4 linked regions of the Homo sapiens genome follow. The main gene of each other region encodes a partner of the protein of the gene in region 4 in a complex. Each region holds a gene or a part of one and is shown on either strand. Other genes may lie near its edges.

Region 1 (8,013 bases), on a different chromosome or scaffold from region 4:
CTTGAGGCCAAAGCTTGAGGCCAGCCTGGCCAATGTGGTGAAACCTCGTCTCTACTAAAAATACAAAAATTAGCTGGGCGTGGTGGTGTATGCCTATAATCCTACTTGGGAGGCTGAGGCACCAGAATGGCTTGAACCAGAAAGGTGGAGGTTGCAGTGAGCTGAGATCGTGCCACTGCACTCCAGCCTGAGCAACAGTAATACTCTCTTTCAAAAAAAAAAAAAATTCATTTATGATTCAAAATGGGTAAATTTTATGAAATATATAAATTATACACATAGTTGTTAAAATTGATTTATGAGAATATTTTCTTCTATCCATTTATGGCTTGTACTAGTAAAGGTTTTTTTTTTTTTGAGACAGAGTCTTTGCTCTGTTGCCAGGCTGGAGTGCAGTGGCACAATCTCGGCTCACTGCAAGCTCTGCCTCCCAGGTTCAAACAATTCTCCTGCCTCAGCCTCCCGAGTAGCTGGGACTACAGGCACGTGCCACCACGTCCAGCTAATTTTTGTATTTTTAGTAGAGATGGGGTTTCACCACATTTGCCAGGATGGTCTTGATCTCTTGACCTCGTGATCCACCTGCCTCAGCCTCCCAAAGTGCTGGGATTACAGGCGTGAGCCACCGCGCCCGGCCTAGTAAAGGTTTTTGATAAAGTATGACAGCATTCAAAATTGGGCTTATTATATCATATGGTTTAGGAAAAGCCTGGGGCAAAAAACACAATAATTACAAACACAGATGTAACCAAAGTTTATAAAGAACAAAAATAATGCCACAAATTATTTTAAATTTTGGTTGAAAAGACTGAATTTATCAAGAAATACTCCTATATTTGGCAATACATTTATACAGGACAATTTATTTATTTATTTATTTATTTATTTATTTATTTATTTATATTTTATTTATTTTTTTGAGACAGAGTCTCGCTCTGTCACCCAGGCTGGAGTGCAATGGTGCAATCTTGGCTTACTGCAACCTCTGCCTCCTGAGTTCAAGCGATTCTCTTGCCTCAGCCTCCCAAGCAGCTGGGACTACAGGCACGCGCCACCACAGCCAGCTCATTTTTGTATTTTTAGTAGAGATGGGGTTTCACCATATTGGCCAGGCTGGTCTCAAACTCCTGAGCTCATGATCCACCAGGCTCAGCCTCCCAAACTGCTGGGATTACAGGCATGAGCCACTGTGCCTGGCCTATACAGGACAATTTAAAAATTACAATAACTTAAACAATGTCACTGAAAAAGAAATCTGCTGCGAGACCACTTTTTATTAGCAGCTTTTTATCATGGGTAATTCAGCTAGGATCAATATTTGCAAAGATATAAAATAAATGGTAATCTATTATAATCTATTATAAAGATATAAAATAAATGGTAATATAAAAAGTGGTAATCAGACTTACAAGTAATACAGATAGCTATAAATTGGGACAATTGATAACTTCACATTAAATTCCCAGAATTAATATTTTTTATATGACAATGAGAAGAAACATTACTGTAAATGTCACAACTGTTACACAGACTTTTAATTATCCAACATGATTGAAAAATATATTTATGTTGAGAATTATATATAGTAACTATTTACTAATTTTTTTTAAATTACGATACAATGAAATTACTAACAAAACAGAAACAGACATTATTTAATCTATTAATGCAATTGGTATTTCATGAAATAATTACACCTTAGATATCATTATGAACATCAATAATCATATAAACTGTTGACATGGTAGGTCTAAGACAACTCCACTTGCATCAGTCAAAAGAATATACACATCCCAAATTGCACACATCCCAGACTGCTCTATATATGCCTTATTCATCTAATTTTCTTCATAACCGAGTTATTCTACGAGTAAAAACAAAAACTTAAATTTTTACAGCTTTGTGGTTTTTGGATTTCAGATTTTAAAAGAAATACATTTCTGTTTTCTCCAAGTTTGCATGAAATTTCGCTGATCTCCCAAAACTTACTCTAGTAAAAATAAAATTAGCATAGTAATTTTAAAGTCTGTGGGGAAACATTAAACATTAAATTATATTTTGAAAAATAAAGATATTTAACTTACTACTTTTTACAGGTAAGTTATTTTAAAATAAATTATGCGCACCATGTTTTCTGGGCACTTTTTACAAATAATAGCAGGTCCTCCATTATTAGAGATCATCTGAAATCCTGGTAGACATACACATGAAGTTCCTAAAAAAAAAAAAAAAAAAAAAAAAGCCAATTTTATCCTTGATAAATAAAAATAAAGTTCCCAGATAGTGAAACTTTTAATAAGTCTGAAGATCTTGAGAAGCAGTATAGTGATTAACAGCAGGATTCTGGAGGCAGTACTGCCTGGGTTCAAATCCAGAAATACACTTCTTGAGTTCCAATCGTAGTAATCCTACTCAGTTGCATGACCTTGAACAAGTTACTAAACTCTCTGCCTTGGCTTCCTCTACAATAAAATGGAGAAAAAAAATTGGTACCTACCTCACAGGGTTAGTATGAGTACAAAATTAGTTATTATACGTAGAGGTCTTACACTGGCACACAGCTGGTATTATGCTGCTACCATTTTAAGTGCAAGTATAACTAAACTATTAAACTACTTAACTGCTGCTGGAAATTTTACATTTCTACGTCACTAAACAATATACATGTATTCGGGCCAGGCGCGGTGGCTCACGCCTGTAATCCCAGCACTTTGGGAGGCGGAGGCGGGTGGATCACCTGAGGTCAGAAGTTCGAGACTAGCCTGATCAACATGGTGAAACTCCATTTACGGGGACTAGGGGCCGACCAAGGCGGGAGTGTTACTTTTGCCAGGGCCCACCGCAAACCGTCTTACCTCGGGCATCTTGCCTCTGGTTAGCTCCACAAGGAACACACGAGAGGGCGGAGATATCAAAGTACTGGTTGTTGTCGCACTTCTCCGGCTGCTGGAAAGGGAAAGAGAAGGTCTGGGCCTGTAAGAAGCGAGGGAGGAACAACAGAAGGAACGCGGTCACGGCCCGGGCGGATAAGAGGGACCAAACCGCCATTGCCACCCCAGCCCCACCGCGCGTCGCCATGGTACCGACGCTGGAAGCCTCACAGCCTCCAGCCCCCCATCAGCCTCTGCGGCGGCTTCGCTGAGCTGATTGGACAACCCAAGTCCGGGTACCGGAAGTCACTGCTCGTGTTGCTTGGTTGCTAGGTTACCAACCCTGCGCGAAGTTGGCAGGTCCAGTAAAGAATGGGTTAGAGACCGGTTAACCCTGGAGCCCAGCGATATTTTCAAACGTGTATAGAGTTCCTCTACTTACGATAGGGCTGCCCCCTCCCCGCAATAAACCCATCGTAAGTTGAAAATATCATAATTTGTCGAGTTATAGTTACATCAGAATTTATTCAGACTAGGTAATTTTCACGTTAAAGGAAACATGACTTGTAGTTTAACAATTTGATGTCAAAAAACCCCACTGACTTAAAACCCAGTGAAGGATTACTATAGCTCAAAGACTGAAAAAATAAAAAAACTTTCCTGCCAGGTTTGAGCATAGGAAATCATGTATGCGAGACAAAGTACGAAACGGAAGAAACCATGTTTGCTCATTCTGTTGCCAGCGAAATTTCACAAAGCCCCTGACTCAGTGACTGAACGCAGTCCTCCAGAAGAATGCCCTGAAGACAATAAGTAGGATAGAGCACAAGTTTTCACATCTGTTGCTTGAATCACTTCATTTTTTAAAAAGATACAGTCAGCGATCCTAGCTCTTGCCTCTTCCTGTACGTAAGATAACGTGTGACAGGATTAATGATTATGCCTCTGTAATCTATAACCAGATGTAGTCTCCAAACAAAACTTTGATGAGATTTTGCTCCAACGTAACTTCTGAGCACGTTTAATGTAACTTTTGAGCACATGCAGAACTCCATCCCTTGATGTAGAAACTGGGGGCAGAACAGCTGCTTTGGACCAGTATAACATAAACTCTTTGAAAGACTCTCCAGGGTTGCATTCCTCAGTAAGACTCCGAATAAAACTAACTTTGAGTCTTTAAAAGCCTGATTTTTTTCTTTAGTTGACATGTATATAAAATGAGATCACCTTTACACCTTTTGTGAATAAAGGAATCTAAGCCTGGTGCTGTGGCTCACACCTCTAATCCTAACATTTTGGGAGGCCACAGTGGAAGGATTGTCTGAGCCCAGGAATTCAAGACCAGCCTGGGCAACATAGTGAGACTCCACCTCTACAAATAAAATTTATTTTAATTAGCTGGGTGGGTGGCACATGCCTATGGTCCCGGTTGCTTGGAAGGCTGAGGCGGGAGAACCACTTAAGCCCAGGAGGTCAATGAGCCCAAAGGCTGCAATAAGCTATGATCGTGCCACTGCACTCCAGCCTGGATGTCAGAGACCCTATATAAAAAAAAAAAAAAATCCTGGACAAAAATATGGAAACGTTTAGAGTTAGAGACCACTTGCGAGGCTAAGGTAGAAATCTAGAGTCTAAATTGGAGCCATGGAGGAAGGGAGAGGCAGAAGAGGATGAATAAAGGAGCTATTCAGGAAGAAGAATTATAAGAATTTTATTATTTGGACATAGGAAGTAAACAAACAGAATCAAGGATAACTTCCAGGTTTCTGATTTGGGTGGCTGGGTAGACGGTTGTGATATTAAAGGAAGATACCTGTGGTAGATAGCTTCTAAGCGAAAACTTATTGGATAAAGAAAATTTTAAGGTAGAAATGAAAGTTATAGGAATATTTAACATGGTGGGAGCTAGAGGTATGGATAATAATAGAAATAATAGGTATTAATAGCTTGTTTTTGTTATCAAGCAAATGAGCTCTCTATCCAATGCATGCACAGAAGCCAATACTATGTGGCACAAGCTTTTGAGGAAAAAAAGTCTTTATTTGCACAACTGGTCAGCAAGGAGATAGGAGTGCATTCAAATCTGTTTCCCTGATTTAGAGTCTGGGGTAAACTTATGGGCTTGGAAAGCCAAGGGAAGAATTTAGGAATGTGTCTTGGCAGGCAGAATGGAGGACTTGAAATTTGACCATTTAGAAAAAGGTACGTAGAGGCCGATTTTAGGCCTGATCCTCCAGGCAAATGGACCCAACACTTTTGAAAGAGTTCCAAGTTCAGGTTCCAGTCATGTCCCGGTCTTGGTTCCAAGGAAAGGATTCACTGGTTTTGGGTGTTGTTAGAGGTCCAGGCTTTTTCTATTGCACATGACTGGGCTACATGACTTTCAGTTTTTGGCTCTGTTACATCTAAAAGGTAACACGACATTTTGTTATCAACAGAGTAGGCTCAGTTTGGGCTAGTCCCATGGAGACACTTTTAATGTGTCCGGCATTGCAATATCTCATTTGATCCTAAATTGGGACTGTTATCATCACCTTTAATTTACAGATGAAATAACCAAGGCTTAGAAAGTATAAGTGACTTTCTAAGGTCACACTTAATTCATGGTTCTAACCCTGGTAATTTGACACCAGAGCCCATACTTTTCTTCGGGTTTTTGTTGTTGTTGTTGTTGTTTTAAACTTTAATTTAGGTTCAGAGGTACATGTGCAGGTTTGTTATATAGGTAAATTGAGTGTCTCGGGGGTTTGGGGATCAGATTATTTCCTTACCCATGTGATAAGCATAGAACCCAATAGGTAGTTTTTTGATCCATACTCTCCTTTCACCCTCCACCCTCAAGTAGTACCCAGTATCTATTGTTCCCTTCTTTGTGTCCACCTGTACACAATGTTAGCTCCAACTAATAAGTGAGAACACACAGTATTTTATTTCTTTCCTGTGTTAGTTTGAGATAGGAGGTTGGCAGGACTGATTTCACAGGATAAGATCATAAAGACCTGGCTGATAAAACAGGATAGGTAAAGAAGAGGACTGAAACCTGCTAAAACCAAGATGGTGACCAAAGTGACCTCTGGCCATCCTCACTGCTCATTATATGCTAATTACAATGGATTAACATGCTAAAAGACACTCCCACCAGCACCTTGACAGTTTGCCCCTTGCCATGCCCACTTAGAGAAGTTACCCTACATGGTCTAACAAGGGAGGACGCTCCGTTCCAGGAATTCCCCACCTTTTTCCTGGAAAACTCATGAATAATCCACCCCTTGTTTAGTATATGATCAAGGAATAACCATAAATATACTCAGTCTAGCAGTCCTTGCCATTGCTCTGCCTATGAAGTAGCCACTCTTTATTCCTTTACTTTCTTAACAAACTTGCTTTCACTTTATTCTGTCAGATTGCTCTTGAATTCCTTCCTGCATGAAGCTGAGAACCCACATGGCCACTCAGGCTGAACCCTGATTTTGAGGTTTTCTCTGTGACAAGTTTGCTTTGGATAATGCAGAGCCCACACTCTTAAGCCCTGCTTTTTATTGTTGCCTTTGAATCTCTGGATGTGCTTTTCTGGGCAGGAATAAAGAAAAGCTAAAGGCAAGTAAGTTCAAGATGAGATTAATGAATTAAAATATTACAAAGAAGGTGAAAAACAGAAGTGGAGGTTGTGGTGAGAAAGGGGAATTAGTGAGGTTCAGATCTTACATCTGGGGCACTTTGTGTGGTGAACCCTGTGTTCATTCCCAATCTCCAGACACTTAGTGCCCTTTTGATTTGTTAATCTTTTGTGTGTAACTTGTTTTTTACTTTCTTGAAGTCTTCAGGATGTTCCTCTCTGTGCCCCACCTTCTCATTTTTCTTAATTTTACAGTGATGTGTCTGGGCATGTTTCATTGTCATCTTTTGTGTGGAACACCTGTTGTAACTTTGCAATTCAGCAAAGAAACTCATGTCCTTTAACACTGGGAAATGATCTCTTCTACTAATTATTCCTTTGAAGACTTTCTCTCCGTTTTTTTTTTCTTCTGGACACCCTATTTTTCAGATACTAGACTTCCTGGACTGTTCCTCTAATTTTCTCAGATTATGTTTTCATTTTTCTTTTCTTTTTTCTTTTTTTTTTTTTTTGAGACGGAGTCTCGCTCTGTCGCCCAGGCTGGAGTACAGTGGCGGGAGGCGGGATCTCCGCTCACTGCAAGCTCCGCCTCCCGGGTTCACGCCATTATCCTGCTTCAGCCTCCGGAGTAGCTGGGACTACAGGAGCCCGCCACCTCGCCCGGCTAATTTTTTGTGTTTTTAGTAGAGACGGGGTTTCACCGTATTAGCCAGGATGGTGTCAATCTTCTGACTTCGTGATCTGCCCGCCTCGGCCTCCCAAAGTGCTAGGATTACAGGCGTGAGCCACCGCGCCCGGCGTGTGTGTGTGTGTGTGTGTGTGTGTGTGTGTGTCGGAGTTTTTTTGCTCTTGTTGCCCAGGCTGGAGTGCAATGGCACGATCTCTGCTCACTGCAACCTCCACCTCCTGGGTTCAAGTGATTCTCCTGCCTCAGCCTCCCGAGTAGCTGGGATTACAGGCATGTGCCACCACGCAGGGCTAATTTTGTTATTTTTAGTGGAGTCGGAGTTTCTCCATGTTGGTCAGGCTGGTCTCAAACTCCCGACCTCTGGTGATCCACCCATCTCGGCCTACCAAAGTGCAAGGATTACAAGCGTGAGCCACCGCGCCCAGGCTTCATTTTTCATTTTGTTTTGTTTGGTTCTACTTTCTGGAAGATTTTCCTGCGCGTATCTGTCAAACATTGAATTGAACTTTTCATTTCTTCTATTATAAATTTAATTTCTAAGAGCTCTCTTTTGTTTTCTGGCTATAGCTTAATTATGGCATTCTTGAATTCTTCCATGCTGCAATATCTTATTTCCTAGAATACATTACTAGTGGTGTTTTAAAGTTTCCCTCTGTTGCATAATCTGTTTCTTCAAAGTTATGTTTTGTATAAAAGGCTTTCCTCCTAAATCTTGGGACCTTTTGCCATTTACATACATACAAAAGTGGGTGGCCAGGCGCGGTGGCTCACGCCTGTAATCCAGCACTTTGGCAGGCCAAAGCAGGTGGATCACCTGAGGTCAGGAGTTCGAGACCAGC
Region 2 (7,282 bases), on a different chromosome or scaffold from region 4:
GCTAAAGGTTGGTTTTTGAAAAGACTCATAAATTTAAAATCCTAAGGCTGATCAAGAAATTGAGAGAAAACAAACTGCCAATACCATGAATGAAAACATGGGACAGCCTTTCAGATGCTATAGAAATGCAAAATTTGGATGAAATAGACACATCCCTCAAAAACTACAGTATATCAAATAGCTGACAGAAGTAAAAAAAAAAAAAAAAAAGATTGATAATAAAGAGATTAAATCTTGATTTGTATCAAGGCAAGCAAAATGATAAGGCATAAGGACTGAAAAAGAAGCGATAAAACTATCGTTATTAACGTATTACATGATTGCATATGTAGAAAAATCCAAACAATGTAAGAATAAACTCTGTGGGCCGCGATAGCTCACATCTGTAATCCCAGCACTCTGGGAGACTGAGGTGGGAGAACTGCTTGAGCCCAGGAGTTTGAGACTAGCCTGGAAAATGTAGTGAGACCTTGTCTCTACAAAAATTAGCCAAGAATGGTGGTGCATGCCTGTAGTCCCAGCTACTTGGAAGACTGAGGTGGGAAGATCGCTTGAACCTGGGAAGTATAAGTTGCAGTGAGCTGAGATCACGCCACTGCACTCCAGCCTGAGTGACAGGGCAAGACCCTGTCTCAAAAATAAATAAATAAATAAACTCTTGCAATAAGTGAATTTAGCAAATCAATGGACACAATGTTAAAAAATTTTAAATACATTTCTACATATATGTACCAGCAACAAATACAAAACAAAAATTTTTTAAATGCCATTTATAATATCATTAAGAAACATCAAATCCCAGGAATAAATCTAAGGAGAGATTCTGCTGAAATGTATATTGCTGGGATATATTAAATAAGATGCAAATAAATGGAAGTGCATACCAAATTCATAGCCTGAGAATCAATACTGTGTAAAAATGTCAAGTCTCTTTAGAGAGTTGTTATGCTGTGACTCTTTAGATTCACCCAGTCTAGATCAAAATCACAGCTTGCAAGACAGAATGAGGGTAAAAAGGAAGAGGGAGAATGGAGAAGCTCTTCTAAAATCCATACAGAAATGCAAAGTAAAGAATAGCCTAGACAATGCAGATGAAGAAGGAAAAACCTAGAGTATAATACTAAATAGCAAGACCTATTAAAAAGCTACAGTATTTAGACATGGTAGTGTTGGTACAAACTGTCTAATTTAAAAGAATAGAGACTACAAAAACTGATCCACATGTAACACAGTCATGTTATTTATGGGAAAAGTGACACTGCAACACAGAGGGAAAAAGACACTCTCTTCAGTAAATGGTACTGGGTCAATCATAATATATATTCACATGGATATCTTGATCACTGCTTCCTATCATAAACATAAACCAATTCCTGATGAACTGCATATCTAAATGTGAAAGTAAAACAGAAACAGTAAAACTTTTAGAATAAAACTTTTAGAAAAATATCTTCAGAACTTAGGAAAGATTTCTTAAATCACAGCACTTACCATCAAAGGAAAAAAATGGATAAACTGGACAATACAAAAATTTCTGTTTTTCAAAAGACACCAATGAGAGAGAAATAATCAAACCAGAGTAGGACGACATTTGCGATATAAATGTGGGTAGGTATTTATATCTGAGAATAATCTCATATTGAGGTATATAAACCTATCACTACAAATCAATTAGAAAAAGACAATTCTGTGTTTTAAAAAATGCAGACAACTTGAATATATTTACAAATGTCAAAATCTAAGTAGTTAATAAACATGAAAACACTCAACTTCAATAGTTACCATGGAAATAAAATTAAAACCAAAATGAATATCACTATACATTCCTGAAGAATGAGGAAAATTTAGTCACTCCTAAGAATGACTAAAACGTTAAAAAACAGTATTACATGTTGGTAAAGATGTGGAGTGACTGGAACTCTCAAACACTGCTAGTGTCAACTGGTAAACCAACTTTGGAAAACTGGAAGTAATTATTAAAGCAAAAAATATACATAATCTATGACAGCAATTCTACTCCTAACAATATGCCCAAGATAAAGGTATGCATGTGCTTACCAAATACGTGACTGCAATGTGAATTACCGCTTTACTTATAATTGCCTAAAACTAGAAACAACTCAAATGACCATCAATAAAATAGGCAAATTAACTGTGGTATATTCACACAATGGATATCTAAATAATACAAAAACAGAATTAAGAATGAATAAGCTCAACTGTATGCAAGCAACAGTAGTATAAATCTTACAAAATTAACATTGAGTAAAAAAAGTCAGGCACAAGGAGCACAGTATTTATCATTCTATTCATATTAAAGTATAAAAATAAGCAAAAATAAACTCTGTTAGATGTCCAGGTAGTGGTTACTCCCACAGGGCAACTAACGGGAAGGTGATTTTTCTGGGTGCTAATGATGTTCTGTTTCCAAATTTAGGTAATGATTTTATAGGTATGTTCAGTTTGTGAAAAAAACTTTAAAAATATGTATATGAGTATACTGCTTAGTGCTTTATATATATAGAAACACATAAAACAAGTATACTGCTTAGTGCTTTTCTATATATATCTATATACACATTATGCTTCAACAAAAGATTTTAAAATTTTAATTATAGAAACCACAAAACATCATCACTTACATCTTCTAATGAATAAGTACTATAAAATCTAAAATTGCCCATTTTAATCCCAATTTTTGGCCAATCAAATGGAAACTGAAAGACTAAAAAAGGATGTATGAGTAGAAAAGAACATGTAAAGAAAAATAAGAGAAAACAAACAAGAAAAGAAGAAGACAGAAATCAACAAGGCAAAGAGAAAAGTTGAGAAAGGAAAGAAGTGGTATTAGGCTGACGAATTGGGAGGATACCATGTTGGACAGGATGCAGCCTTAACATCAGAAATGTTTATTGGCTGCTGACCATTTATAGCTTTCAACAACTGAGTCCTAACCATTTAGAGGATGTAAACTCAATGGTTTAAAGAAGAAATCCTCTATGACCCAATAGCAACTACAAAGTCAGTATCATTTTAGAGTTGAATTTAAAGTATGACAAGAATCAGAGAAGGTCAGGCATGGTGGCTCATGCCTGTAACCCCAGCATTTTGGGAGGCTGAGGCAGGTGGATCACTTGAGGTCATGAGTTCGAGACCAGCTTGGCCAACATGGTGAAACCCCGTCTCTACTAACAATACAAAAATTAGCCGGGTATGGTGGCATGCATCTGCAATCCCAGCTACTCAGGAGGCCGAGGCAGGAGAATCGCTTTAACCCGGGAGGTGGAGGTTGCAATGAGCCGAGATCGTGCCACTGCATTCCAGCCTGGGAGACAGAGTAAGACACCATCTCAAAAATAAAAAAAATCAGAGAAGACTCAAGTGATACAAACTCATCAGAGACCTACAGCTACAAATACATGTGTGCTTTAATCTAGATGAATTCAAGAACAAGTACCAAATATCCTATATTGAATTATTTTCAAGTATACCCATCAGTTTTAAAGGGCTAAAATTCCTAGAATCAAGTTATTTCTACCAACATACACAATTTTTCATTTAATTTGTATAGCAAACCTGCTTTAGTCTTCTTTTTTGTTTTTTTTGGTTTAGGTTTTGTATCATCTTGCATGCTGTCTTCTGTGCTTTGTTCCATTGAGCTTATTTCATCATCTTGATGAGAATCTGAAGAAACTGATCTAACTGAAGATTCTTTCTTTTGTTCACCTTCAACTGTGTCACCAGAGATGGTCAATGTACTACAAATATAATCCAAGTATCAGCCATTACAGATATATTATCATTATAATTATTATTCATGATGCAACAGAGTGAACAGTAAATAGGAGCAAAGATAATCCTAAAATCACTATTATTGTCTCTTGAGAGATGCATGTATTTTCTTATACACTAAAATGGTTAAGTGTCAAATAGGTATCATAGGTGGTATTTTATACTTCGTGAGGAGTTACACGATTCAACTAAAACTGAGCTCTAAACCCCAGGGGAAAGGGAAATTGTATTAATATTTTATGAGCAATTGATCTCTCTTTACATAGGACTTATCAAAGCATGCCCACCCTGCTGCCAAGTAAATGATTTATCAACCAATTTTTAAATTACCTTATTTAAAGGTATAAAAAGTATTCTAGGTTTGTTCCGTCTTCAAGAGGCTTCACATGCACAACTTTTGATTTCTCTTTTTTCTTTTCTTTTTTTTTTAAGACTGGGTTTCGCGCTGTCGCCCAAGTTGGAGTGCAGTGGTACAATCATAGCTCACTGCTGCCTCAACCTCCCAGGCTCCAGCAATCCTCCCACTTCTGCCTCCCAAATAGCTGAGACTACAGGCACCATACCTGGCTAATTTTTGTAATTTTTGTAGAGATGGACTTTCACTATGTTGCTCAGGCATGGATTTCTAGGTAAAAATTAATTCCTTGGTGAGTCACTACATTTTCAGAAGGCTATTACTAAAATTAAAATCTATATCACATGAACTAGTAAATGGTAAGAAGTAGCAACCCAGAAGCATACTGAGTTTAAAGAAAAACCAGCCTACTAACATTTTAATGTATCTAGTAAAAAATCTGCATGTAAATAATAAAAAATTAATTTCCAATATTTTTAGTCATATTTCAAAAAAAAAATGGGTTGAGGAAAGTAAGACTAGAGAAATATTTCAAATTAGTCATTCCAGAAAGCCATTCTATTTGATCACATCACCAAACCCTGTTCTTTAAGGAGAACAGCTACCCTTTGCGTGCCACTGTCACGTGTTATTAAAAATTCATGAGCTAACCCTATTTCATATTGACTATGGCTTACCAGTCTACCACAGAGGTGGTAGCTATGAGAAGGAAGATTTATAGTATACTATGGTAGGAAGCCTCTAAGATGGACCTTACTGATCCCCACCTCTTCATATTCATGTCTTTGTGTAATCCCCTTTCTTTTGTGTGTGGGCTGGACTAGTGACTTACTTCTGACAGACAGAATATGATAAAAGTAATGAATGCCACTTATAAGATTAGGTTCCAAAAAGACTGTGACTTCTGTCTTGCTCTCACTCTCTCAGAGCCCTTGGTCTGGGGAAGCAAGTGGCCATGTTGTGTGTAGACCATATGGAGACAGTCCATGTGGCAAGGAACTGGTATACCGGGCCCAAAGCCAGTCAGGACCTGAGGCCTACCAACAACCACATGAATGAGCTTAGAACTGGATCTTCTAAGGCCTTCTAACAGCTATGTCACTTGACAGATCCTCCCCCAGTCAAGGCTTGAGGTGACTTCAGTCCCAGCTAACATCCTGATTGCAACCTGTGATTGACAGAGACACCCAGTGAAGTCACTCTCAGATTGCTGGCCCACAGAAACTCTGAGACAGTAAATGCTTGTTGTCTTAAGCTGCTAAATTCTGGGATCATCTTTTTAATGGAGCAACAGATAACTAATATATACTATCATGTCCCTGCAGCAACTTGGTTTGCCGTATCTTTATTACCACCGGTCACCTAGCTTTTGAAAAGAGGGGAATTATTTTTGGCTGAGGGCTTTAGGGGAAATTGATGCTGAATGCCAAAGAATAGTCACATATAAAATGTTCCCACCTCAAGTTGTTTCTCTAGAGGAGAACTGCAGGGGGGAACAAAGTTAATTATAGCAGTTAAAAAGCATTTTTACCTTATTGTTTTCTCCAAATAGAAAACATATAAATATGTGTATGTTCACTTAACCTCACACTCTATATAGAAGTACATACATATATAAGCATCATATAGAGAAAAAGATTAGAATACCAAATTGCCAATAGTGATTATCTTTGAATAGTTTTTCTACAATGAGCTAATGTTATCTGTATAAGAAAAAAAGTTATATTTATATATCCAAACAGGTATTTGTAACTCAAAAAAGGGGAAGTAATTAGGTTTCTATTACTTTGAAAGCAGATGTAAGTGAGTAGTTCAGGGTAGGGACAAGGATCTGGCTCAGCCTCTTACTAGTTCTGTACTTCCATTTCCTCATCAGCAAGATAGGAAGAATATTACTTTTCCTTATAAGATTGTCATAAGAAATAAATGAGTTAATTCTCGTAAAGCACCTAGTACATAGTAAGGTGTTATGTAAAAGTTAGCTGTTCTTATCTTAGTGACAATGTCTCCAAATAAAAGCGTAAGAATTTTCTTTGTTAAACCACAGATAATATTCAAAACCTGAAAATAACAGTGTTTTTCTAAGAGGATATTTTACATTTATCAATGCAAAAATACCTTGTTTCAGCTTTAGAGAAGACTGGAACTTCCTTTTTCTTTTTCCTTTTTTCACTGCTTAGTTTGTCATCATGGAATAAAGTATCTGAGGGAAAGTAAGTCAACTGTTCTTTCAGTTTCTTTCTTATTTTCCTCTTAATCTCCTTTGCCATTTCTTCAGTTACATGGCACTGATATGCTTGCATCAATTCTTCATCCTCTTCTAAATCAGTCTCTTCTCTTCCCTCATTTGCCTTCTCACTTTTCTGATGATCAACGCCTGGCTGTGGCTTTGTATGTGTTTTCTGGTGTGTAGAATCAACCTTATTCTCAGGAGTTTCCGGTTTCAGGTCTTGTGTAGTCAACTGGGGCACCGTCTTTATCACCTTTTTATTTGGCTTTCCTTGTTTGTCTTCCTCTACACTAGCATCACCATTAGGATTTTCAGTTGCTAACTGTGTGTTCCTCAATTTGTTTTTAGTGACTCTCGTGCTCTTCTTCAGGTTGTTAGTGTTAGCAGCACTTACATCATCACTTGTAGTTTCTTTAATATGGGGAAGATTGCTTCTAATAGTGTCGGGCTAGGAAAAGAAGACATGATAACAAAGTTTCAGTTACACATAGATTAGTTATATAAAGAAAAACCTAATAATTAATATTTGACAATGTGGAATTATTGGGAGGATTATTTAGTTTTTCATCTGGACATAGTGACACTATTTTAGAGCATATGAGTACTCTCATAATTTATGCTTCCAGAATTTGATTAGTAATCTCTGAATGTAACTTCAGATTAAATGAGTTAATTGACATGGGAAAAAAGTACTTAAGGACCTATAAGAAGTGAATTAATTGCTCAAATCTCAAATGCTATTTTCCTCATACATATTTTCCTCATGATCTACACTCTAATAGATATTCGAGAAATTGCTAAAAGAGCCATTGAATGTGACATTTCAGGTCACCCAATAGGAAATATACATGGGTCATTTATTTTGCTTCATAATTACACTCTAAAAGCAAAAGTCTACAGCTCTA
Region 3 (8,160 bases), on a different chromosome or scaffold from region 4:
TAAGGAAACAGAGATGTGTACATCATTATAATACATCAAACTTTTGCTTCTGTAACTGTTTAATCAAATCAGTTCTACAGAACTGATGCTATCTGACATGTTTTCATAACCAACACTAAACTAATGAATGGCAGGGGAACCAAGAACATTAGAGCTAAAAGGAACCAGACTGATAGTCTAATCCAAGTCTGCTATTACAGATGGCATATAGCCCAGAGATGAAAAGTTCCTCACCCAGAATCACAAAACTGAGTAGTGGCAATCCCTATGTTACAATGCCCTTTAAACACAACAGGGGAAAGTATAAACTGTTACAACCTGTCTGGAAATCACTTTGGCAATATGTATCACCAGCCATGTGGAGGTAGACCAGATGGAATAGACAGAGAAGACAAGAGACACTGGCTCACCTGGCTAAAGAGCTTCTCCTGCCACCCAATCACAATCTCCTCCTCTTCGTCTTCCTCTGGGCGGTGTCCACCTCCAAAGACAACAGAGTGAATCAAATGCTTGAGCCAAACCAGCACCACTTCTTGTTCTGTGGTTTATTATAACCAAAGTCCCTATTCTTATATTTGCCACAAAAACTAGCTGGAATTCAGCAATTTAGTAAGCACTCAACCTAGAGAAATGCTAGAGAGGCTGTATATGAGAGTTAGTATGAGTAGAAGCCAAGATTAGAACCCAGGAAGTCTTAGTCATGACTCTAATTTGAATAAAAGAAAATACCCCCCAGGAATTTTTTTCTGGGGGGGATGGAGTCTCACTCTGTCACCCAAGCTGGAGTGCAGTGGCACTGTTTCAGCTCACTGCAACCTCCTCTTCCTGGGTTCAAGCGATTCTCCTGCCTCAGCCTCCCAAGTAGCTGGGATTACAGGCACACACCACCAACCCAGCTAATTTTTGTATTATCAGTAGAGATGGAGTTTTGCCATGTTAGCCAGGCTGATCTTGAATTCCCGACCTCAGGTGATCCACCTGCCTTGGTCTCCCAAAGTGCTGGGATTACAGGCGTGGGCCACGGCGCTCAGCCCGCTCCAGGAAATATCTAATCTAACTGGATATAAGAAACTGAAATTTAGATATAAGCTGAATAGCCAGCCCTTCCTCAGTCCCAACTGTCTGCATTTGCTAGAAAATAACCCTGGCATTTTTATCTTTACTATTTCTAAAGCCATATATGTAGAATCACAAACACTGAAATTTAGGAGACCAAGTGTAAGGAGAGGACAGTGAAGGCAAATAAATGATTTTTTAACAGAACCAAATCTGGCTGAATGCAGTGACTCACGCCTGTAATCCCAACATTTTGGGAGGCTAAGGTGGGAGGATCACTTGGGCCCAGGAATTTGAAACCAGCCTGGACAACATAGCAAGACCTTTTCTCTACTAAAACTTTAAAAAAAAATAAACTGAGTGTGAGTCTGTAGTCCCAGCTAGTTGGGAGGCTGAGGCAGGAGGATGGCTTGAGCCTGGGAGACCAAGGTTTACAGTGAGCTATGATCATACCACTGCACTCCAGCCTGAGCAGAAGAATGAGATTCTGTCTCAAAACAAAACGAAAACAAAAACAAAGAAAACAAATCTAATCTAATACACTCTTGGGTATGCCTTTTTCAGAGACACGTTTCACAACCTGTGAGCCCACACTCTTGCCCAGGAACAGCTCTGAACAGAAAGAGAAACAATAAAAGCAAACAGACTAGTGACCTGACAACAACCACTCTGTCCTCTCCTCCTCATTCTTTTGGTTTCCCAGATAAGGAAAACCACAAGAACACAGTTGATCTATACATGCACATCATATGCAGATTTTGCAAGCAGTCTCCAGTTTAAAAATTGTTTTTAAAAGTGTTTATATGTGTATTTAGGGTTTGGGGCACGTTTTCTCTTTTAAAAATGCCACAAATAGGACGGGCGCGGTGGCTCACGCCTGTAATCCCAGCACTTTGGGAGGCCAAGGCGGGCGGATCACGAGGTCAGGAGATCGAGACAATCCTGGCTAACACGGTGAAACCCCGCCTCTACTGAAAATACAAAAAATTAGCCGGGCGTGGTGGCGGGCGCCTGTAGTCCCAGCTACTCGGGAGGCTGAGGCAGGAGAATCGCGTGAACCCGGGAGGCGGAGCTTGCAGTGAGCGGAGATAGCGACACTGCACTTCAGCCTGGGGGAAAGAGCAAGACTCCGTCTCAAAAAAAAAAAAAAAAAAAAAAAAAAAAAAAAAGCCACAAATAGAATGTAGGTTGCCGGGCAACTCTATAACATATCAGAAGTATAGTATTTGTTATCTCACTACATTTGGCCACAATTCTGATTAGTATCATAATTAGTATTAGATGGCACATCACCACCGTAACACCCACTGGCAGTTGGCTGAGGCCTAAAAGTGGCCAAGTCTATGAGGTCCTTCCCGAGCTCGGCAGCAGGCTGATAATGAAGAAAGTTGCTTGATGTGATTCTTTGCAGGTGGACTCTGTCAAGAAAAGCCCAAAATATTCGTTACCAGACACGCAACCAGGAGATGAACACAAAGCAAGGATGGGGGAAACAAAACAGAGGAGGTAGGGTTGCCAAGGTGTGCTGGGTGCAGACAACGGAGAGGAGGTGGGTGGGTGCGCCGTCCTATGGGGAAGAATGAAGGGGAGAGGGTGTACTGGGGGCACAGGGCTTTGAGAAACTGGGAGCAACAAAGACGTGAATGGACTTGGGTAGGTCTGTAAGGGGTTCTTAGAGGCTGTGAGTGGATGGGGGTACGGATAGTGAAAGAAGTGGGGAGCCCGGAGAAGTGGTCGGGATTGTAAGCAGAAAGTGGGGACCTCAGAACACCGAGCTCAGGTTGGAATGATCTAAGGACACAAAAGCATGGGGCCTCGGGGCTGGGGCGGTGCGACTACCGGAGGCGCAAGTTGCGCACGGGGTCCCGGGAGCGATACACTGCCTCCCCGGTGTCAGTGCTCCAGACGGTCTCCGCCATGACAGCTGCGACGCGCCGCGACTGCGCCGGAAAGCGCGCCGCTCTGTTTTCCTGGCAACGGAGACGCTGGATCGGGAGGCGACGGAGGTGCTGCGCGCGCAACCCGCCGTTCCCGTCACGGCGCCACGGTCGCAGTTGGCCACACAGTGCAAGTGCAGCCCAAGCCGAACGCCCAAGAGGGCTCCGGGGTCCTACCGATCACCGCTTACCATGTATGCGATAAAAGCTCACCGAAAGCGGGACCTCGTGCGCTGTGCAAATGAGGAAACTGGCACAGCCATCAGCCCACTTCATATAGACAGATAGATGCAGAAATGATGACGGGGACCAGGTGGCCTGAGTCTTCGCCCTCTACCTTTTCCACCATGCCACACTGCCTTCCACCCAACGCGTGAAAACTTTGGCCTGAAAATCGGGTGATGTGACTGTAAGAAATGCACCCATTATTCCCAAAGGAGTCAGGGAAGGTGATGGCCCTTAGCCAGACAAGAAAATATATTCTTGGAAGACAAAAAAAGTGTCAGAAGATTTATTAGTCTTTGTGTTGATATTCACTGAGCAAAGAAAGAAAAAACAAGGAAGTCAACAGTAAGGAAGGAAACGATGTTATTATTGAACTGATTCTTACCTTGTGTATGTTAGTTTTGGATCATTAAGCCACTTTGTTACTGCACTGGCTTCCTGAAAAGCCAAAAAAGTGACATTCACAAGTCATGCTTCGTTGTACTAGCAAAGGAAGGACATGCTGTAACCTCACGTCTGGCGTCCCGGCACTTTGGGAATGTCAACATTTATCAGCCTTGTTCACATCTAGTCCTCCTCCAACAAAGTAAGCAATTGTCCCCTGAACTCGGGAATCTCATGCCAGTTTGATGATTTGGCATTGGAAGCTCTGGGTGCCATAGCCACTAGTTGTGTAACACCGACTCACCATAAATAGCACCATTTATTTAGGATCTAGTGCAGCTTGAGCACTTTTGTTTGCATTGTCCCAAATCCTTGTAGAAGCCTCTCAAAAAGGTACTTTTATTCACTTTAAAAATGAAGTTCGTGAAGGCCAGGGTTTAAAGGACTTGCTAGCTTGCAAGTGGTAAAAGTACTGGGATTCTAGCCCAAGTTCTTCTGTCTTTTGAAGCCTAACCACCTTCCAGTTTGCCTCACAGCCTCTCACCTACCAATTTATTCCATAAACGCACACATTTCCAACCTGGGAAATAATAATTTTTTTTTTTTTTTTTTTGAGACGGAGTCTCGCTCTGTCGCCCAGGCTGGAGTGCAGTGGCGGGATCTCGGCTCACTGCAAGCTCCGCCTCCCGGGTTCACGCCATTCTCCTGCCTCAGCCTCCCAAGTAGCCGGGACTACAGGCGCCCGCCACTACGCCCGGCTAATTTTTTGTATTTTTAGTAGAGACGGGGTTTCACCGTTTTAGCCGGGATGGTCTCGATCTCCTGACCTCGTGATCCGCCCGCCTCGGCCTCCCAAAGTGCTGGGATTACAGGCGTGAGCCACCGCGCCCGGCCGGAAATAATTTTAACATAAAACAAAAGGCACCTTTCTAGCTCCTAAGAAATTGTCTCTCCAATGTTTCCTTTTAAAATTGTGAGTAGGCAATCTGTGCCACATGCACAACAGCTGATAAAGTGGAGCCTGATTCTAGTTTAATTTTATAACCAAATCTAACTTATAACAAAGTTAATCTGACATAATTATATGCAAAATAGTTTCTATACCACGTTATGGAAATATAAGCTATTTGTGTAAGCAACCATAATTAGTATTATTTTTATATAGGTAAACTAAGTTTTCATGTTTTGTTTACTGATTTCTATGAATCAGGATCCTTTTATGTTTAAATATTCAGCTTATTGGTCTTAAGTACATTTACCTTGTTTTTCAACCATCATCACCATCCATCGCCACTACTTTCTTATTTTTGAAAATTGAAACTCTGTTCCCATTAAATAGTAACTCCTCATTCCCCTCTTCCAGCCCCTGGCAACTACCATTCTACATTTTCTCTCTATGAAATTTGACTGTTTTAGATACCTAATCCATATTGTAGCATGTGTCAGAATGTCCTTTTTTTTTTTTTTACTTTAAATTCCGGAATACATGTACAGAACATGCAGGTTTGTTACATAAGTATACATGTGCCATGGTGGTTTGCTGCACCTATCAACCCATCACCTAGATTTTAAGCCCTGAATGCATTAGTTATTTGTCCTAATGCTCTCCCTCCCCCTGCCCCAGACTTTGCGACAGGCCCCAGTGTGTGGTGTTCCCCTCCCTGCGTCCATGTGTTCTCATTGTTCAACTCCCACTTATGAATGACAACATGCAGTGTTTGGTTTTCTGTTCCTGTGTTAGTTTGCTGAGGATGATGGCTTCCAGCTTCATCCATGTCCCTCCAAAGGACATGATCTCATTCCTTTTTATGGCTGCATAGTATTACATGGTGTATATGTACCACATTTTCTTTATCCAGTCTATCACTGATGGGCATTTGGGTTGGTACCATGTCTTTGACATTGTAACTAGTGCTCCAGTAAACATACGTGTGCATGTGTCTTTATAGTAGACTGGCTTATATTTCTTTGGGTATATACCCAGTAATGAGATTGCTGGGTCAAATGATATTTCTGGTTCTAGATCCTTGAGGAATCCGCACACTGTCTTCCACAATGGTTGAACTAATTTATATTCCCACCAACAGTGTAAAAGTGTTCCTATTTCTCCACAGCCTCGCCAGCATCTATTGCTTCCTGACGTTTTAGTAATTGCCATTCTGACTGGTGTGAGATGGTATCTCATCGTGGTCTTGATTTGCATGAACCAGGATTCTTAAAACTGAGATCCATGAGTGGGATTCAAGAAGTCTATGAATCCTTTCCCTAGAATTCTGAATGGGGGATTTTTCTAGAAAGAGTTCATAGCTTTTATCAGATTCTCAAAGGAGTTTGTACCATGATATCAAGAATGGCTTGGGCCAGACACAGTGGAGTTTAGACCCAGGAGTTTAGACCCACCGGGGCAACATATTTTTTATTTATAAAAAATTTAAAAATTAGCCAGGTTTGGTGGTGCATGCCTGTGGCCCCAGCTACTTGGGAGGCTGAGGTGGGAGGATCATGTGGGCCGAGGAGGTCGACGCTGCAGTGAACATAATTTAAAAGGAAGAAGTAAAATTGTGTATATCTACATACAATATGAACCTAAACAATCCTAAAGAATCTACAAAAATGCCAGCAGAACTAATAGGGTTATAGAATACAAGGTCAATATACAAAAATCAATGGTATTTCTATATACTAGGAACAAACCATTTGAACTTGAATTTTAAAAATCACAGCCATTTAAAATAACATCCAAAAGCACAAAACATAAAATTAACAAAATATGTGCAAGCCTTGTACACTTAAAATGTCAAAACATTGGTAAGATGAAGACCTGGATAAAGTAGAGTACTATAACATGTCCATGGATTGGAAAAATCTATATCATTAAGGTAATTATCCTCAAGATGATCTAAATCTCAGTAAAAATCCCACCAGGTTTCTTTGTAGAATTGACAAGCTGACTCTTAACATCTATATGGAAATGCAAAGGAGTTACATGGTTAAAAGAATTTTGAAAAAGATCACGCCTGTAATCCCAGCACTTTGGGAGGCTGAGGCGGGCAGATCAAGAGATTAGGAGATTGAAACCATCCTTGCCAACATGGTGAAACCCTGTCTCTACTAAAAATACAAAAATTAACTGGGCGTGGCGGCATGCACCTGTAGTCCCAGCTACTCCAGAGGCTGAGGCAGGAGACTCGCTTGAACCCAGGAGGTGGAGGTTGCAGTGAGCTGAGATCACACCACTGCACACCAGCCTGGCGACGCAGCAAGACTCTGTCTCAAAGCAAAAAACAAAAAAAAGAGTCCAAAATAGATCTGTACGTAGATGGCCTATCAATTTTTGACAAAGGTCCCAAGGTAATTCAATGGAGAAAGGACAGCATTTTCAACAAATAATGCTGGAATAATAAATCCATAAGCAAAACAAATACAAAGATGAACAAAATTCAACTCCTTACCCTACACAATTTAATGAATTGAAGCAAAATGGATCATAGACCTAAAAAGTAATAGTTACAACAATAAAACTTCTAGACAGAAACATAGGGACAGATCATTGAGATCCTGAGTTGGGTAAATATTTTCTTAGGACTCAAAATGTACAAACTATAGAAGAAAAAATCAATTGTCATCAAAATGCACAACATCTTTTCTTCGAATGACACTGTCAAGAAAATAAAAAGACAAGACACACTGAAAAATATTTGCAAAACACCTATCTGATAAAGGACTTATATCTGGAATATATAGTCTTACACCTCAGTAATAATAATACAAACAATCTTATTTTTTAAATGGTCAAAAGATTTGAACAACTTACCAGAGAATATATGTGAATGACATTAACCCAGGAAAAGATACTTGATATCATTAATCATCAGAACATTACATATTAAAAACACAAAGATACCACAGCACACCTATTACAATGGCTAAGATTTAAAAGTTAGACCATATTAAATGCTAGTGAGGATGTGGAGCAACTGGAACTCTCATAATTACTTATCAGAATGCAAAATAGTACAGCCACTTTGGGAAACTGGAAATTTCTTATAAAGTGAAACATTTACATACCATATGATCCAGCAATCTCACTCCTAAGTATTTACTCAAGAAAAATGACAATATGTGTCCACAAAAAGGCCTGTATGTAAATGTGTATAACAACTTATGATAGTAAAAATGGGAAACAGTCCAAATGTCCATCAATGTGTAAATGTTTAAATAAATTGTGTAATTTGTATAATATTTATACAATGAAATACTACTCCATAATAAAAACAAAGTGACTACTGATACATAAAACCACATGGATGAATCTCAAAATCATTATGCTCAGTGAAAGAAACCAGACATAAAAGACTATATACTGTACAATATATTCGATATGGCATTCTTTAAAAAGGAAAAATTATAGAGATGGAAAATAGATCAGTGGTTGCCAAGGATTGGGTGTGGGGATAGGGATTGAGTATAAAGGGCAGTGTGAGGGAATTTTAGGGGTGATGAGACCGTTCTAAATCTGTGGTGATGCTAAACAACTTGTTGCATTTGTTAAAAACCT
Region 4 (7,282 bases):
TATCTCAAAAAAACATAGAGGCTGGGCACAGTGGCTCACGCCTACAATGCCAGTACTTTGGGAGGCCATGGCAGGAGGATCACTTGAAGCCAGGATTTCAAGACCAGCCTGGGCCACAAAGTGAGATTTTGTCTCTAAAAAAAAAAAAAAATAGACAGATAGCTGGACAGACAGATAATAGTATAGAGATAGTCATAATAAAAATGGGACCATATTCTACATACTGTTTTAAGGCTTTTCTCACTTAATATATAATGCCTAATATGCACTTACAATATTATAAGTGGCTTCATCATCGTATACCAGCCTATTAATACCCCAATTTGTTTAACCAATATAGATATGGATATGGTACAGCCCAAGCACCGTGGCTCATGCCTGTAATCCCAGCATTTTGGGAGGCTGGGGAGGATCACTTGAGGCCAGGAGTTCAAGACCAGCCTGGGCAACACAGACCCCGATCTCTACAGAAAACAAAGAAAAAATTAGCCCGGCATGCTGGCAGATGCTTATAGTTCTAACTACTTGGGAGGCTGAGGTAGGAGGACTGCTTGAGCCCAGGAGCAAGGTTACAGCGAGCTATGATCGTTGGTTTAGGTTTAGGTTTCTAATTTTCCCCAATTATATGTAATGCTATAATGACAACCTTATACATACATCTTTATGACTGTCTCCAGTTGTTTCCTTAGGATATGTTTCCTGAACTGGAACTGCTAAACCAAAAGGCAGGTAACATTATTTAAAGCTTCTGAGACACACTCCCAGATTGCCCTCTAGAAGGGCACAATATACATTCTCACCAACACTGTAGTAAGAGTGCCTATTTCCCTGTACCCTTGCCAAGACTGGATATTATCATTCCGTTTTTACTGGGCCTTAAAGGATAAGTAGAAATCAGACAGACAGTAGGAATGGGAAGCAAATCCAAGTGCAAGAACGGCAATGGCCAAGGCTGGGTAACGACTCATGGTCTTTGGGAAACTCTGAGTACCAAGGTTGGGCTGGAGTGGATTTGAGATGGCTGGTAGCAGGTGATAGGCTCTGAAAGAAGGTGGGAATGAATCTGAATCCAGGCTAAGAAGCCTATAGATAATGAGAACTTCTGAAGGTCTTTTAGTGAGTGCTTGACAGGATGAGGTGTGAGCTCATAAAGCAGGAGCAGGGATGGACGACCACGAGGGCTAGAGTGATGGAAGGCTCCACAGAATGGGATTCCTTACTCCCCTCCAGTCAGCCACCTCCCCAATCCTGTGCAGTATTTCAGTATCATCATCAGATCTAGATACTTCTCCCTAGCCCCACTGTCACAGCTTTTGGGGAGGATGGGGAGGGAAACCGTTAATCCGCATCTGCAATAGCTTTTTACTTGGTTCTCTGCCACCAGGCTTGGCCTTGTGATCCACTGCATATGATGCTGCAGAATTACATAAGATGGGAATCTGATCCTCTTACAACCCAGGCCCTGTGGACTTCAGGACAGAGTCCAAACCCCTTAGCATATACACAAGGCCCCTGGGGACCTGACCCCTGATCTCTTTCCTACACTCCTCTCACCCCACCCCTCTTCTGGCCACACTGAGTTACCTGCAGTTAAGCAGGCCATCCCACATCCCCCCATCTCTGTCCACGCAGTTCCCTCTGCCTGGAATGCCCTTCCCCTCAGTCCATGCTGACCATCTTCCACGTGTCCTTCAGGACCCAGCTCAGCTCCTGTTTTCTGGGGAGCATTCCTTAGTGGGGCTGAGTTAGATGCCATTCCTCTGCCTTCTCATCGTGCTTGATGTAGAAACTGCCATCCACTCCTCTGTCTCCCTTACTCGACGGTAAGCTCTTTGAAGGCAGGAGAGTGCCTAACTCATCTTTATGTCCCTGGTGCTGGCATTCAGGAGGTACTCAAGAAAGGTTGGGAGAAAGGAAAGACTGCTGAGACAGGAAAAGGAAAGGAAGAGGCAAGGGTCAGGGGAGCCTCCAGGTTTTTGGCCTGGTGTCGGCCTAAAAGACTAATGGTAGAGGAAGTCAACAAGGGACACTAGGAAATCAGTTAGAGGTGGAAGGGAGAAATTCATTCATCCATTCAACTCATTATTATTATTATTATTTTTTTTTATGGAGTTTCGCTCTTGTTGCCCGGGCTAGAGTGCAATGGTGCGATCTTGGCTCCTGCAACCTCTGCCTCCCAGGTTCAAGCGATTCTCCCACCTCAGCCCCCTGAGTAGCTGGGATTACAGGCACCCACCACCACGCCCAGCTGATTTTTGTATTTTTAGTAGACACGGGGTTTCACTATCTTGGCCAGGCTGGTCTCAAACTCCTGACCTCAAGTGATCTACATGCCTCAGCCTCCCAAAGTGCTGGGATTACAGGCGTGAGACACCATGCCCAGCCAATTCAACTCATTCTTAACGAGGGCCCACTATGTGGCAGGAGCTCTACTAGGTACTAATGGTTAAGGAGAAAAGAGATCTTCCAGGTTAGGCGCAGTGGCTCACGCCTGTAATCCCAGCACTTTGGGAGGCCGAGGTGGGCGGATCACGAGGTCAGAAGTTCAAGACCAGCCTGGCTAACACGGTGAAACCCTGTCTCTACTAAAAATACAAAAAATTAGCTGGGCATGGTGGCACACGCCTGTAGTCCCAGCTCGTTGGGAGGCTGAGGCAGGAAAATTGCTTGAAGCCAGCAGGCAGAGGTTGCAGTGAGCCGAGATGGAGGCACTGCACTCCAGCCTGGGCAACAGAGCAAGACTCTGTCTCAAAAAAAAAAAAAATAGCCCCAAGTTGGAGCAAAAATGTCACTTTCAGGCTCCTGTATTTACTAAAGGGAGGAAAACAGAATGACTTTCAACAAATACTGAAACATGCTACAGGCCAGGTAGCCAGAAAATTAATCTGACTACATTGCCCTGTTCTCTGAGCATTTTTACAATACTAGAAATAGGCTCAAAATCCCATTGGTCAATAAAATAGTTTCTCACAGGAAAAACCCATTGTACTTCTTAAAAGGGTTCACCTATCAAGTATCAATTGCTAAAACTTGCTATAAGGCTAAATTTAAATTAGCTATCTCTGAATACTAAGTTGGTCCCATCCTGAATTAATGAGCCTCTTCTAAGTGCTCCTAGTTTTTCAAAAAGCCTTGAAGCTGGGCGCGTTGGCTTACACCTGAAATCCCGGCACTTTGGGAGGCCAAGGAGGGCGGATCACCTGAGGTCAGGAGTTCGAGAGCAGCCTGACCAATATGGTGAAACCCCACCTCTACTAAAAATACGCCAGGCATCGTGGCGTGCACCTGTAGTCCCAGCTACTCAGGAGGCTGAGACAGGAGAATTGCTTGAAGCCAGGAGGCGGTGGTTGCAGTGAGCCACTATCACACCACTGCACTCCAGCCTGGGCAACAGAGCGAGACTCCATCTCATAAAAAAAAAAAAAAAAAAGAAGCCTTGAAACCTCAATTATAAGAGATCATTCAGAACAGATTATTTATTTACCTTATAATCAGCTGGAAATGTCATTTTTCATTGTTCTATACAATGCGAACTGTGAGAATTCCTGGTAGATTTACATATCAGAAAAGTACAGATTTCTTATCTAATTTTTTGTTACAAATACTATGTCCACAACAAAAGCTGTGAAATTAAAATGCACTTTTCACCCTAGGCTATACTAATTCACTGATACAAAAAATGTGACCACTGTCTACAACTCAAATTGAAATGTAATTCAATCTTCAAACACAGAGGTTTCATTACATTATTTTAATGTATATTCTCTCTTCTCTTTTGCCTGCACAGTCACCTGGCTGAATGCAAATAAGGGATAGCTACTTTTTTTTTTTTTGAGACTGAGTCTCGCTCTGTCACCCAGGCTAGAGTGCAGTAGCGCAATCTCCACTCACTGCAAGCTCTGCCTCCCGGGTTCACGCCATTCTCCTGCCTCAGCCTCCCGAGTAGCTGGGACCACAGGTGCCCGCCAACATGCCCGGCTAATTTTTTTGGATTTTTAGTAGAGACGGGGTTTCACCGTGTTAGCCAGAATGGTCCCAATCTCCTGACCTCGTGATCCACCCACCTCAGCCTCCCAAAGTGCTGGGATTACAGGCGTGAGCCACTGCGCCCTGCCAGGGATAGCTACTTTTTTACATATTTGTTTGGACGGTATGGCTTCAGAACGACGTAAAACACTGGAAATCAGGTTTGGGTTTTTAAGCCTGGGAAAGTTTTCCCTTTCTCCAAATTGTATTATCCTGGTCAAATTTTTTCAAAATTGCATGTGTCATACGTAAACTTACGTGACAACTGGAACTGAGCAGGCAGAAAAGACACTGAAATCCACGGAGCTGCAGTCGGGATCACAGCAGCAGTTGATGTCACACTGTGCTGGGGATAAGTCACAGACACAGAGAACAGCAACTGCAGAAAAAAGAGGGGTAGGATCCAGAACATCACCATCAGCAGGTGGTGACTGCCCCCTGCCACCACAGTGTACCATAAGTCAATTTCATAAAAAAGATCCATTTTATTTTTCCTATTGCACTTTGGGGGAAATTTGTGAAGTGGAAATGAGTCAGTTTGAGCATCCCACAATCAGAGGTTTCCCCAAAGTGGCTAATGATCTGACTCGCTTGGAAAGTTCTGTTAGTGCTTTGCCTACAGAGATGCTGATTTCGTAAGCTGAATATGAAACCCAGGCATTTGCAGTTTTCAGAAACTTTCCAGGTGATGCTTATAATTAGACAAGTTTAAGAACAAGCACCCCTAAACCATTTGCCTGACCATAAGAACCACCAGTTTAAAACTCCAAAGTCCTTAAGCCCCTCCTCTAGAGATTACGATTCAGAGGAAGGGCCCACTTAAACCTTCAGGAAAGAGACTTTTCAATCTTGCCCCCTCTTCACGTATAACCTGCTGCTTTAAAGCTGAACTCATATTCACAGACCCTTGGCCAAGAATCATACCGGCTCAGGTGCTCAGAATGTCTTTGGTGATTTAGACAATAAGGTATGAGGGCGGGGTAGGAATCTCCCCCACCTCACAACTTTTAATTATTTTATTTATTTATTTATTTTTTAAAGGAGTTTCGGCTCTTGTTGCCCAGGCTGGAGTGCAATGGTGCAATCTTGGCTCACTGCAACCTCCACCTCCTGGGTTCAAGCTATTCTCCTGCCTCAGCCTCCTGAGTAGCTGGGATTAAAGGCATGCACTACCACGCCCAACTTTTTTTTTTTTTTTGTATTTTTATTAGGGACGGGGTTTCACCATGTTGGCCAGGCTGGTCTCAAACTCCTGACCTCAAGTGATCTGCCAGCCTTAGCCACCCAAAGTGCTGGGATTACAGGTGTGAGCCACCACTCCTGGTCAACTTTTAATCATTAATAAGGATGATTTTTCTTTGCCGCTTTGCAACAAAGATGATTATCTGGATTTTTAATTCTCTATCTTATTCTGTCAAATAAGGACAAGAAAACCCTTTTAAAAAATAGAGAATGAATTTATAGTTGCAATTATTGCTGGAAGGGAAGAAGTAAGATCAACCTTCAATCTTATCTGTAACGTTTTCTTTTTCAAAAGAAGATTTCAAACCAGGCACGGTGGCTCACATCTGTAATTCCTGCACTTTGGGAGGCGGGCAGATCACTTGAGGTCAGGAGTTTGAGACTGCCCTGGCCAACATGGTTAAACCCTGTCTCTATTAAAAATACAAAAATTAGGCTGGGCGCGGTGGTTCATGCCTGTAATCCCAGCACTTTGGGAGGCCAAGGCAGGCGGATCACAAGGTCAGGAGATTGAGACCATCCTGGCTAACACGGTGAAACCCCGTCTCTACTAACAATATAAAAACTAGCTGGGTGTGGTGGCGGGCACCTGTAGTCCCAGCTACTGGGGAGGCTGAGGCGGGAGAATGGCGTGAACCCAGGAGGCGGGGTTTGCAGTGAGCCGAGATCGCGTCACTGCATTCCAGCCTGGGCGACAGAGCGAGACTCCATCTCAAAAAAAAAATTCAAAAATTAGCCAGGTATGGTGGTGGGCGCCTGTAATCCCAGCTACTCAGGGAGGCTGAGGCAGGAGAATCGTTTCAACCCAGAAGGCAGAGGTTGCAGTAAACTGAGATCACACCACTGCACTCCAGCCTGGATGACAGAGTGAGACTCCATCTCAAAAAAAAAAAAAAAAAGATCTCAAGCCAAAAAACAAAATTAACAAAAAAGGAATCTGAAGCAAATGCTGCTAGTGTCCACCCAACATTCTTATTTGTACGTATGAATTATTTCACGATAAAAAGGAGCTTTAGAAAAATGTACCCCACAGCGGCCGGATGCAGTGGCTCAAGCCTGTAATCCCAGCACTTTGGGAGGCTGAGGCAGGTGGATCACGAGGTCAGGAGGTCCAGACCAGCCTGGCCGACATGGTAAAACCCCGTCTCTACTGAAAATACAAAAATTAGTCGGGCATGGTGGCACACACCCGTAGTCCCAGCTACTCAGGAGGCTGAGGCAGAAGAATAGCCTGAACCCAGGAGGCAGAGTTTGCAGTGAGCCGATATCGTGCCACTGCACTCCAGCCTGGGTGACAGGGCAAGATTCCATCTCAAAAAAAAAAAAAGAAAGAAAAAGAGAAAAGAAAAATGTATCCCATAGCTCACGCCTGTATCCTAGCACTCTGGAAGGCTGAGAAGAGTGGATCCCCTGAGGTTAGGAGTTTGAGACCAGCCTGGCCAACGTGGTAAAACCCCATCTCTACTAAAAATACCAAAAAAATTAGCCAGGCATGGTGGCGCGCGGCTGTAATCCCAGCTACTTGGGAGGCTGAGGCAGGAGAATCGCTTGAACCTGGGAGGTGGAGGTTGCAGTGAGCTGAGACTGCGCCACTGCATTCCAGCCTGGGCAATTAAAAAAAAAAAAATAGTACCCCGTAAAAGGTATAATGCACTCTGCAAAAAAAATGTGTGAGGTGAAGGGGAAGGTTTTGTTAATATGCCATGATTTCTTAGTCTAAGACACAAAAGCTTTCCCCCTAAAGTTTACAGTGCTTCTCTCTAGTTGAGAACTCTTCTATGTGCCTAGTAAAATGACACAACTTATGCACGCTAATGTAAAAAATTAAAAGTGCTTTAGGTTCCCTGTATGTTTAAAATTACTATCTTGCTTTGTTTTCAAAACTTAAAGCCCTTATAGGCAGCTGTAAGACTACTAAGGACGAAGCAATAGTGTTTAATAACTCCACTTAGGAAAAAGGTTTCTACCCAGGATGCGAGTGTACTTAATCATCCACCAAGTAGCTGTTGAGCCC

Evidence for each region.
Region 1: TCTN1 (region 4) and TMEM67 share a complex: the UniProt entries of both Homo sapiens proteins name them as parts of the tectonic-like complex.
Region 2: TCTN1 (region 4) and AHI1 share a complex: the UniProt entries of both Homo sapiens proteins name them as parts of the tectonic-like complex.
Region 3: TCTN1 (region 4) and MKS1 share a complex: the UniProt entries of both Homo sapiens proteins name them as parts of the tectonic-like complex.

Annotation. Positions count from the first base shown.
Region 1 is NC_000008.11:93,749,980-93,757,992, reverse strand, and holds the start of TMEM67 (meckelin isoform 1 precursor), read right to left. Parts: upstream 3,100-8,013; 5' UTR 3,079-3,099; coding exon 2,856-3,078; intron 2,216-2,855; coding exon 2,127-2,215; intron 1-2,126. UniProt on the Homo sapiens protein: Required for ciliary structure and function. Part of the tectonic-like complex which is required for tissue-specific ciliogenesis and may regulate ciliary membrane composition.
Region 2 is NC_000006.12:135,459,549-135,466,830, forward strand, and holds part of AHI1 (jouberin), read right to left. Parts: intron 6,826-7,282; coding exon 6,266-6,825; intron 3,759-6,265; coding exon 3,577-3,758; intron 1-3,576. UniProt on the Homo sapiens protein: Involved in vesicle trafficking and required for ciliogenesis, formation of primary non-motile cilium, and recruitment of RAB8A to the basal body of primary cilium.
Region 3 is NC_000017.11:58,216,256-58,224,415, forward strand, and holds the start of MKS1 (tectonic-like complex member MKS1), read right to left. Parts: upstream 3,001-8,160; 5' UTR 2,976-3,000; coding exon 2,896-2,975; intron 2,475-2,895; coding exon 2,365-2,474; intron 491-2,364; coding exon of another isoform or gene 482-490; coding exon 411-481; intron 1-410. UniProt on the Homo sapiens protein: Component of the tectonic-like complex, a complex localized at the transition zone of primary cilia and acting as a barrier that prevents diffusion of transmembrane proteins between the cilia and plasma membranes.
Region 4 is NC_000012.12:110,616,959-110,624,240, reverse strand, and holds part of TCTN1 (tectonic-1 isoform 1 precursor), read right to left. Parts: intron 4,406-7,282; coding exon 4,285-4,405; intron 1-4,284. UniProt on the Homo sapiens protein: Component of the tectonic-like complex, a complex localized at the transition zone of primary cilia and acting as a barrier that prevents diffusion of transmembrane proteins between the cilia and plasma membranes.